Homo sapiens: one gene and its partner. The protein of the gene in region 1 purifies or fractionates together with the protein of each later gene. This does not show direct contact. Each region holds a gene or a part of one and is shown on either strand. Other genes may lie near its edges. The genes, in order: CAMSAP3 and WWC1.

The links.
Region 2: the proteins of CAMSAP3 (region 1) and WWC1 purify together in Homo sapiens (co-immunoprecipitation; one large-scale study listed by IntAct). This does not show direct contact.

The regions. Positions count from the first base shown.
Region 1 is NC_000019.10:7,609,333-7,613,141, reverse strand, and holds part of CAMSAP3 (calmodulin-regulated spectrin-associated protein 3), read right to left. Parts: intron 2,667-3,809; coding exon 2,527-2,666; intron 2,443-2,526; coding exon 2,349-2,442; intron 2,266-2,348; coding exon 2,211-2,265; intron 2,048-2,210; coding exon 1,974-2,047; intron 1,626-1,973; coding exon 1,556-1,625; intron 1,456-1,555; coding exon 1-1,455. UniProt on the Homo sapiens protein: Key microtubule-organizing protein that specifically binds the minus-end of non-centrosomal microtubules and regulates their dynamics and organization.
Region 2 is NC_000005.10:168,427,365-168,431,173, forward strand, and holds part of WWC1 (protein KIBRA), read left to right. Parts: intron 1-668; coding exon 669-777; intron 778-1,342; coding exon 1,343-1,423; intron 1,424-2,772; coding exon 2,773-2,859; intron 2,860-3,809. UniProt on the Homo sapiens protein: Regulator of the Hippo signaling pathway, also known as the Salvador-Warts-Hippo (SWH) pathway.

The DNA of each region.
Region 1 (3,809 bases):
ACCCGGGGCTCCCCCTCCGAAGACGCCTCCTCCTCCAAGGAATCCTCAGCACCAGCGGGGCTCCCGTCTCCCTCGTCCTCGGCGGCGGGATCTGCCAGGCTGCCCAGCGGGATCTCGATGAGGCCCGGCCGGGCGGCTGGCTCCTCGGGGGGCGTCTCCTCCGCCAGGAGGATGGAAGAGCGCGTCTGCACGGGCACCTGGCTCGGCGAGAACTTGCGCAGGTGGGGGAGGCTGTCTACGTCGTGGGGTGGCGTAAGCACCCTGGTCAAGGGTGCCAGCCGCAGCTCCGCTGGCCGCGTGTGTTTCGGGCTGCGGGGTGACTGGCTGGGCCCGGGCCCAGGGCTGCGCCGGGTGGCCGGGACTCGCCGGGCGGGGCTGGGGGATGCAGCTTTGGGCCCCGTCGTGGGGCCAGGGATGACCCACGCAGCAGGTGGTGGGGCGGATCCGGGGGCCTCGGGCGGGGCCAGGAGCCGCTGCTGCTGGTCCGTGAGCCTCTGCATGTCCCGCTGCAGCGAGCTCAAGGCGGCACTCAGCTTGCTGACCGCTCGATTGTATTCCCCCAGCCCCTCGTGGGGCACCGGGCCCAGGTCTGGCGAGAAGGTCACTGCCTTGGGCCGTGAGGTTGGCTCACCCTGGCCCTCGCCTGCGGGCCGCTCCCCACCAGGGACTGGACCGGAATCGGCCTCCTCCGCCTCTGCTTCCGCCTCCCCAGAGGCTTCCCGCGGCTGCACCTGCAGGAAGGCGCTTTTGCCCAGCCGCTGGCGGTGCTTGGCGAATATGGCCTCAATCCGTCGCTTCTGAGCCTCGATGGCTCTGCGTTTCTCCTCCAGCCGGGCGCTGAGCTCACTCATCTCCGAGCTCAGGGCCTCCGGCGGGGCCGGAGTGGACGTGGGGGACCCCGCTCCGGCCTCAGCCTCTGCCTTCACCAGCTGTTTCTTGCGTTCTGCAAAGCTGGTCATTTTCACCTCGGAGTTGGTGGCTGCTGGGGACGAAGCCACCGCCTTCGGGGACCCCTCGGATGGGGCTGGCGGTTTCGATGCCTCCCCCACCAGACAGGGAGATGGTTTCGAGGGGGTCTCGGGGTGTGGCATGTACACTGGTGCTTTGGTGGGCCTGTCGGACAGTGGTTTGGAGGTCCCCTCGGGCAGGTAGGGGGAGGCCAGGGATGGCTTGGAGGGCCCCTCAGGGGAGTGGAGGTAGAAGCTGCCGTCGGCCGCCCCATCTGGGAGGAGCCGGGGCTCGGCACTGTGGATGATCTGCAGAGCTTCCTCGATGGTGGGCAGGTCACCAGGCTCCGGGGGTGGCTGGGTGGGGGTCCTGGCCGGCGCGGGACGCGGGGGGCCCAGGCTGTCCGAGCTCACAGAGCGGAGGAGCACAGGGTCTCCCATGACGACATCCACGTCGCTGTCCAGGCCAAAGGGGGTGCTGAATGACACAGCCTGGGAGAGGGGACGGCTGGGCGGCCGGAGGGAGGGGTCAGCCCCTGGGACCAGCCTCGGCCCCAACCCGCCCTAGCCTGCTCCACCCCCTACCCTGGCCTGTGAGGTCTACTCACCTGAGCTGCCGGTTCCAGGCCTTGCCCAGGGCCTCCATATGGGACATGGACGGGGAAGACTTCAGGGAGCCTGGGGGAGGCGATGAGTGGTCACTATGGGGACCCTGGGAACCCTGAGTGGGGTCAGCCAGCATCTGGGGACAACCTCTGCAAGGTCATTGGGTGAGTCACTGATGGCTCATTATGTGGTCTAGTGAGACCAGAGGTTTCCAGAAACAGATACCCGGGGCCATTTACTGTCACTACGGGGTACTGTGGGGCCACTGGGGAGGCCATTCTGGGGGTCACTTTGGGATGCCCAAGGGGGATCTGATGGAGAGGCTATTGGAAGGCTCACGAGGAGACAACATGAGGCCCACTGGGGCAGTCTGTGAGTGGGGGGGTCCCCCGTGACAGAAGCCACCTACCCCCTCCTCACCTGTGGATCCTCGGAGTGGGGACTGGGGGCCACCAGATGACAGAAGCGGGTGGCGGAAGGTGAAGACAGGAGAACTGTACGGAGAGACGTACTTCAGCCTCAGGACCCCCACCTCCTCCTCCGCCTCTCCCCGGGGGGAGACAACAGCATCACCCAGCTGCGTCCCAGTGCTCAGCAAGGCAGACATGGAGCCCCACACCCACAATGCCAGAGACTCGCCCAGTGTGGGGAGCGTACCTACTGCCGCTGTTGTTCTGAGGTGGGGAGGCCTCAGTGCCCCGGGGGGAGGCAGCTGCAGTACAGAGAAGAGGGTCAGGCGGGGGTTTGGCTCTCCCACCCGCCCCCGACCCGGCCCCCAGGCCCCCAGGGCCTCACCGTGACCATCGGGCAAGTCCTTCACTTGCACAAAGTCGGGCTTGAGCACCTCAAAACACATGAACAACTCGGCCAGCATCACCACCAAGTTGACCTGGAGGTGGGAGGCCGGGTCAGCAGACGGGACCCCTGGCCCCAGATGCCCGCCTCGGCCCAGGAGGCCCCAGGATGGCCTTACCTTGAGTGGCGGTGGGACGTACAGCAAGTCCTCAAGGGACAGGGGGCAGCCACGAGGAAGGCGAGAGGCACAGAAATCCTGCACGAGCTGGAGGTTGTACAGGCTGTCCGCCACAGACATGGGGTCCTTCAAGCACACCTCTGTGGGGACAGGAGGAGTGGGTCCCCAACTCTATGAGGAGGAGGATGGGGCCCCAGGGAAGCCAGGGACCAGCAGTCCCCCACACACGGAAGACCTCCTATGAGCCCAGCTTCTGCCAGGTGCCCTTCGAGAGGTGAATTCTTTTTTTTTTTTTTTTGAGATGGAGTCTCGCTCTGTCACCCAGGCTGTAGTGCAGTGGCGCAATCCCAGCTCACTGCAACCTCTGCCTCCCGGGTTCAAGTGATTCTCCCACCTCAGCCTCCTGAGTAGCTGGGATTACAGGAGTGTGCCACAACACCAGGCTAATTTTTTGTGGTTTTAGTAGAGATGGGGTTTCACCGTGTTAGCCAGGATGGTCTCGATCTCCTGACTTCATGATCCGGCCGCCTCAGCCACCCAAAGTGCTGGGATTACAGGCGTGAGCCACTGTACCCGGCCGAGGTGAATTATATGATAGACCGTCCTTAGGCCGGGGGTCCTTAACCCCCGGGGCGTGGCCTGTCAGGAACTGAACCGTACAGCAGGTGAGCTGCAGTGAGTGTATTTACAGCCGCTCCCCGTCACTTGCAGGACCACCCGAACCCCGCTTCCGTCAGATCAGCGGCGGCATTCGATTCTTACAGGAGCGCGAACCCTATTGTGAACCTGGCGTGTGAGGGATCTAGGTTGCACCCTCCTTATGAAAATCGAATGCCTGATGATCTGTCACTGTCTCTCATCACCCCCAGCTGGGACCGTCTAGTTGCAGGAACAAGCTCAGGGCTCCCACTGGTTCCCCATGATGATGAGTTGTAGAATTATTTCATTCTATGTTACAACGTATTAGATATAAAGTACATAATAAAGATTAACGTGCTTGAATTATCCCAAGACCACCTCCCTGCCTCCATCTGTGGAAAAATTGTCTTCCACAAAACCGGTCCCTGGAGCCAAAAAGTTGGTGACTATTGCCTTAGGCCTTTGCATCTTTCTAGAACACTCTCCCCCAAGACCTCAGCTCAAAAAGCTTTTCCGGGCCAGGTGTGGTGGCTCACACCTGTAATCTTAGCACTTGGGGAGGCTGAGGTGGGAGGATGTTTGAGCCCAGGGATTCAAGACCAGCTTGGGCAACATAGCAAGACCCCATCTCTATTTTATACTTT
Region 2 (3,809 bases), on another chromosome or scaffold:
TTATCCAAGTTTTACAAATGAGGCATCTGAGGCTTAACAGGATTAAGTCAGTATCTCAAGGTCATGAAGCAGTGAGTGGTGGAGCCGGATTTGAATCCAGGCAGTTCGACTCAAGAGCCTGGGATGGTAAAACACAAAATCACATGTGACTCCTTCCATCACCCTAAAGCAAACTTTTTTTTAATTTTTTTTTTTTTTTTTTTTTTTTGCTTTAGCATTTAGAGGTGGTTGGAATTTGGTGGAACCGTCTGTCTTCCATAGAGAGTGTATCAAAATTGGGAGTTCAGGCTCCCCGAATCCCAAAGTGTTGGGATTACAGTCGCTGACGCCTGTAATCCCAACACTTTGGAAGGCCAAAGCAGGCAGATCGCCTAAGACCAGGAGTTCAAGACCAGCCTGGGCAATATGGCAAAACCCCATCTCTACAACAAAATAATAATTCAAAAATTAGCTGGGTATGGTGGCACATGCCTGTAGTTCCAGTATTTGGGAGGCGGAGGTGGGAGGATCACCAGAACCCGAAGTGGTCGAGGCTGCAGTGAGCCATGATTGTGCCACTGCACTCCAGCCTGGATGAGTGAGACCCTGCCTCAAAAACAAAACAAAATTGGGAGTCGCAAAGGCAGTTTCCTGGTTCCTGAACCTGCCTTTCCATTTTCCTTCCCTAGCTGTGAATACGGCCCAGGGGTGTGGCCTGAAAGTGGCCTGTGTCTCAGCCGCCGTATCGGACGAGTCAGTGGCTGGAGACAGTGGTGTGTACGAGGCTTCCGTGCAGAGGTAGGTGTCTGGGTGCTGGCTCTCTCTGTGGCCCTGTAAGCCATGAACTCTGAATATCCAGAGCCTAGGCCTGTGGAGAGGCTTAGGTTTTGGCCCCCACAGTGTGTGGGAGGAGCCCCAAGAGGGCATGACCCCACCTTCCTCTTGGCTGCCCAAGGCACAGACAGCATAACTTTTCCTGGGGTTAGAGATGCTTCAGGTTTGGGGGAGTGCTAGTTCTGTGGTAGCTACGAAAAAGGTATATGGCTAAGGAGCAAGCACTAGAGAAAGGGAAGGCCCCTTAAGAGAGGAGTCCAAGCTGGGCATAGTGGTGTGAGTCTGTAATCCCAGCTACTTGGGAGGCTTCAGTGGGAGGATCACTTGATACAAGGAGTTCGAGACCAGCCTGGGCAACATAGTGAGCCCCCATCTCTAAAAAAAATTTTTTTTAATTAAAATTTAAAAAAGGACCTGAAGGGAAGCTGAGCAAACCCCAACTTTCCTTCCTGGGGATGTAACCTCAGCCTCCCAGAATAGTTTGTTCACTGTAGGGAAGCCTAACTCCTCCTCCCCTGTTGCCTTTCAGACTGGGTGCTTCAGAAGCTGCTGCATTTGACAGTGACGAATCGGAAGCAGTGGGTGCGACCCGAATTCAGATTGCCCTGAAGTAAGTGACGAGGACGAGGAGGACAGAAGGAACGGTCTGTGTGGGGTCCCTTCTTCATCCACAGCGTTCCCCAGCATTTACCTTCACAGCCGCCCAGGGTGGAAGGCAGCACCAGCAGGACCTGCTGGCCATTGCAGCTTCTTAACTGAAGGGATGCTGATTCGTTCCTCACCTCCCAGCCATCCGCTTTACAGATAGGAGAAATGAGGTTGGAGAAATGGGGTTTTAAAAGACCTTATGACTTGGCCCAACTCACTGAGCTGGCTGGTAGCAGAGCCAGGACTGGGACTGAGACCTCCTGCCTCTCAGTGTGTTTGTTCATTGTTGCTGTGGCTTTTGTCTTTCCATCCCATCTAGGTTTCATTGATCTGGATGGAAGTTGATCACTGGGGGCTGCAGCCCAGATTGGGTCAATACACACATGGTTGTTCTTTTTGTTTTCTTTTGTTGGGGGATGATATGATCTCAATTTTTTTTTTTTTTTTTTTTTGAGACAGGGTCTCACCTGTCACCCAGGCTGGAGTGCAGTGGTGTGATCTCAGCTCGCTGCAACCTCTGCCTCCTGGGTTCAAGCGATTCTCCTGCCTCAGCCTCCCAAGTAGCTGGGATTACAGGTGTGTGCCACCACGCCCGGCTAACTTTTGTATTTTTAATAGAGATGGAGTTTCACCATGTTGGCCAGGCTAGTCTCAAACTCCTGACCTCAAATGATCTGCCCGCCTTGGCCTCCCAAAGTGCTGAGATTACAGGCATGAGCCACCACACCTGGCCTTCAATATTTTTTAATAGGAATTAGTTGACAACATTTCCATATCATGAAATTTCACCCGCATTTATGGGTTCTTTTTAAAAATTCAGACAACTGGCTGGGTGTGGTGGCTCACACCTTTAATCCTGACACTTTGGGAGGCTGAGGCAGAGGAATCACTTGATTCCAGGAGTTCAGGACCAGCCCAGGCAACATGATGAAACCCCATCTCTACTAAAAATACACAAAATTAGCTGGGTGTGGTGGTGAACACCTGTAGTCCTAGCTACTTGAGAGGCTGAGGTGGGAGGATCACCTGAGCCTGGGAGGTCGAGGCTACCATGAGCCCCGATCATGCCACTGCACTCAACCTGGATGACAGAGTGAGACCCTGTTTCAAAACAAAAAAAAAATTTTCAAACAATTGGCAGCTCTAGCTCTACATCCCTGCATGGCAGCAAAGCACTGGGCCTGTGCTCTAGAGCTCACCATAGGCCCCAGGGCAGCCAACAGCCACGTCCTGTGACTTTTAATGGAGAGAAGGAATGAGAGAGATGAGTGTGTTACTAATAGGTACTTCATATGCCCCTTTTCATTTCAGGTATGATGAGAAGAATAAGCAATTTGCAATATTAATCATCCAGCTGAGTAACCTTTCTGCTCTGTTGCAGCAACAAGACCAGAAAGTGTGAGTATGTAGCTGGACAGGTGTATTTCATACCCTAACCCTCTGGAGTTACCCCTGGGGGTCACTTTTCTGCCCTGTCCTGATCCAGTTATGGGCCTTGTCAAGGCACTGTGGGTTTGTACTGCATATGACTGTGATGCTGAATGTCGGTGCTGTGCATGTGAATACAGGCACAACGGCAAGCACACCAACTGTAAAGACAAGCACTCTCTAGATGACTGTGTGAATTCCTGCCCCATTACGTGCTGAGCACCTGCTGCATGCCAGCTCTAGGAATGGGGTGGTGAGCAGATCCTTCCTGGGCCCTACCCTCCTGGACTTTGAGCCTCATGGAGAAGAATGGTCACAGTCTGTTTTATCTTCTCCTAAGCTCAAGTGTTTCTTGCAGAGAGAGATAGGTCTTCTGTTTCCAAGAGTCAACACCAGTCACTGCTTCTCTTGGAGGGGTGTGACTGCGTGTTACCTTGATGCTGGTAGGATGCAAACACCTGCTCTGTCTGCCTGTGGGCTCCTCCCATGGTAGATGGGTTTATCCTTTATTGCACTCATCTGCCTCCAAGTTTTCTCTGATCGTAAGGCCTGGAGGGTGGCAACAGAAGCTTATGTGTCTGTGGTCTACACTCAGCCAGCCTGTGAGGGTGGCACATGTGGGAAGAAGAAAGGGCAGGAAGGCGGACAAAACGGAAGGAAGACAAGATGGGATGCTTGGGTCAATTTCAGTCTTCTGCCCACACAGACAGTGCCAGGCTGAATAGCCTCCTCCATAGCTCACTGGTACTCATGCAGGGGCATCTGTGGGATAATGCCTAGAAGTGAAGGGTCTGGACCAAAGGACAAATGCATCTGGAATTTTGTTCGATTTGTCAAAGTTCCTTCCAGTGTATAGGGGCCTGATTCCCCAGATTCCTCACTTCTACAAACTCTCATCCACTGTTGTTTGCTTAGGGATT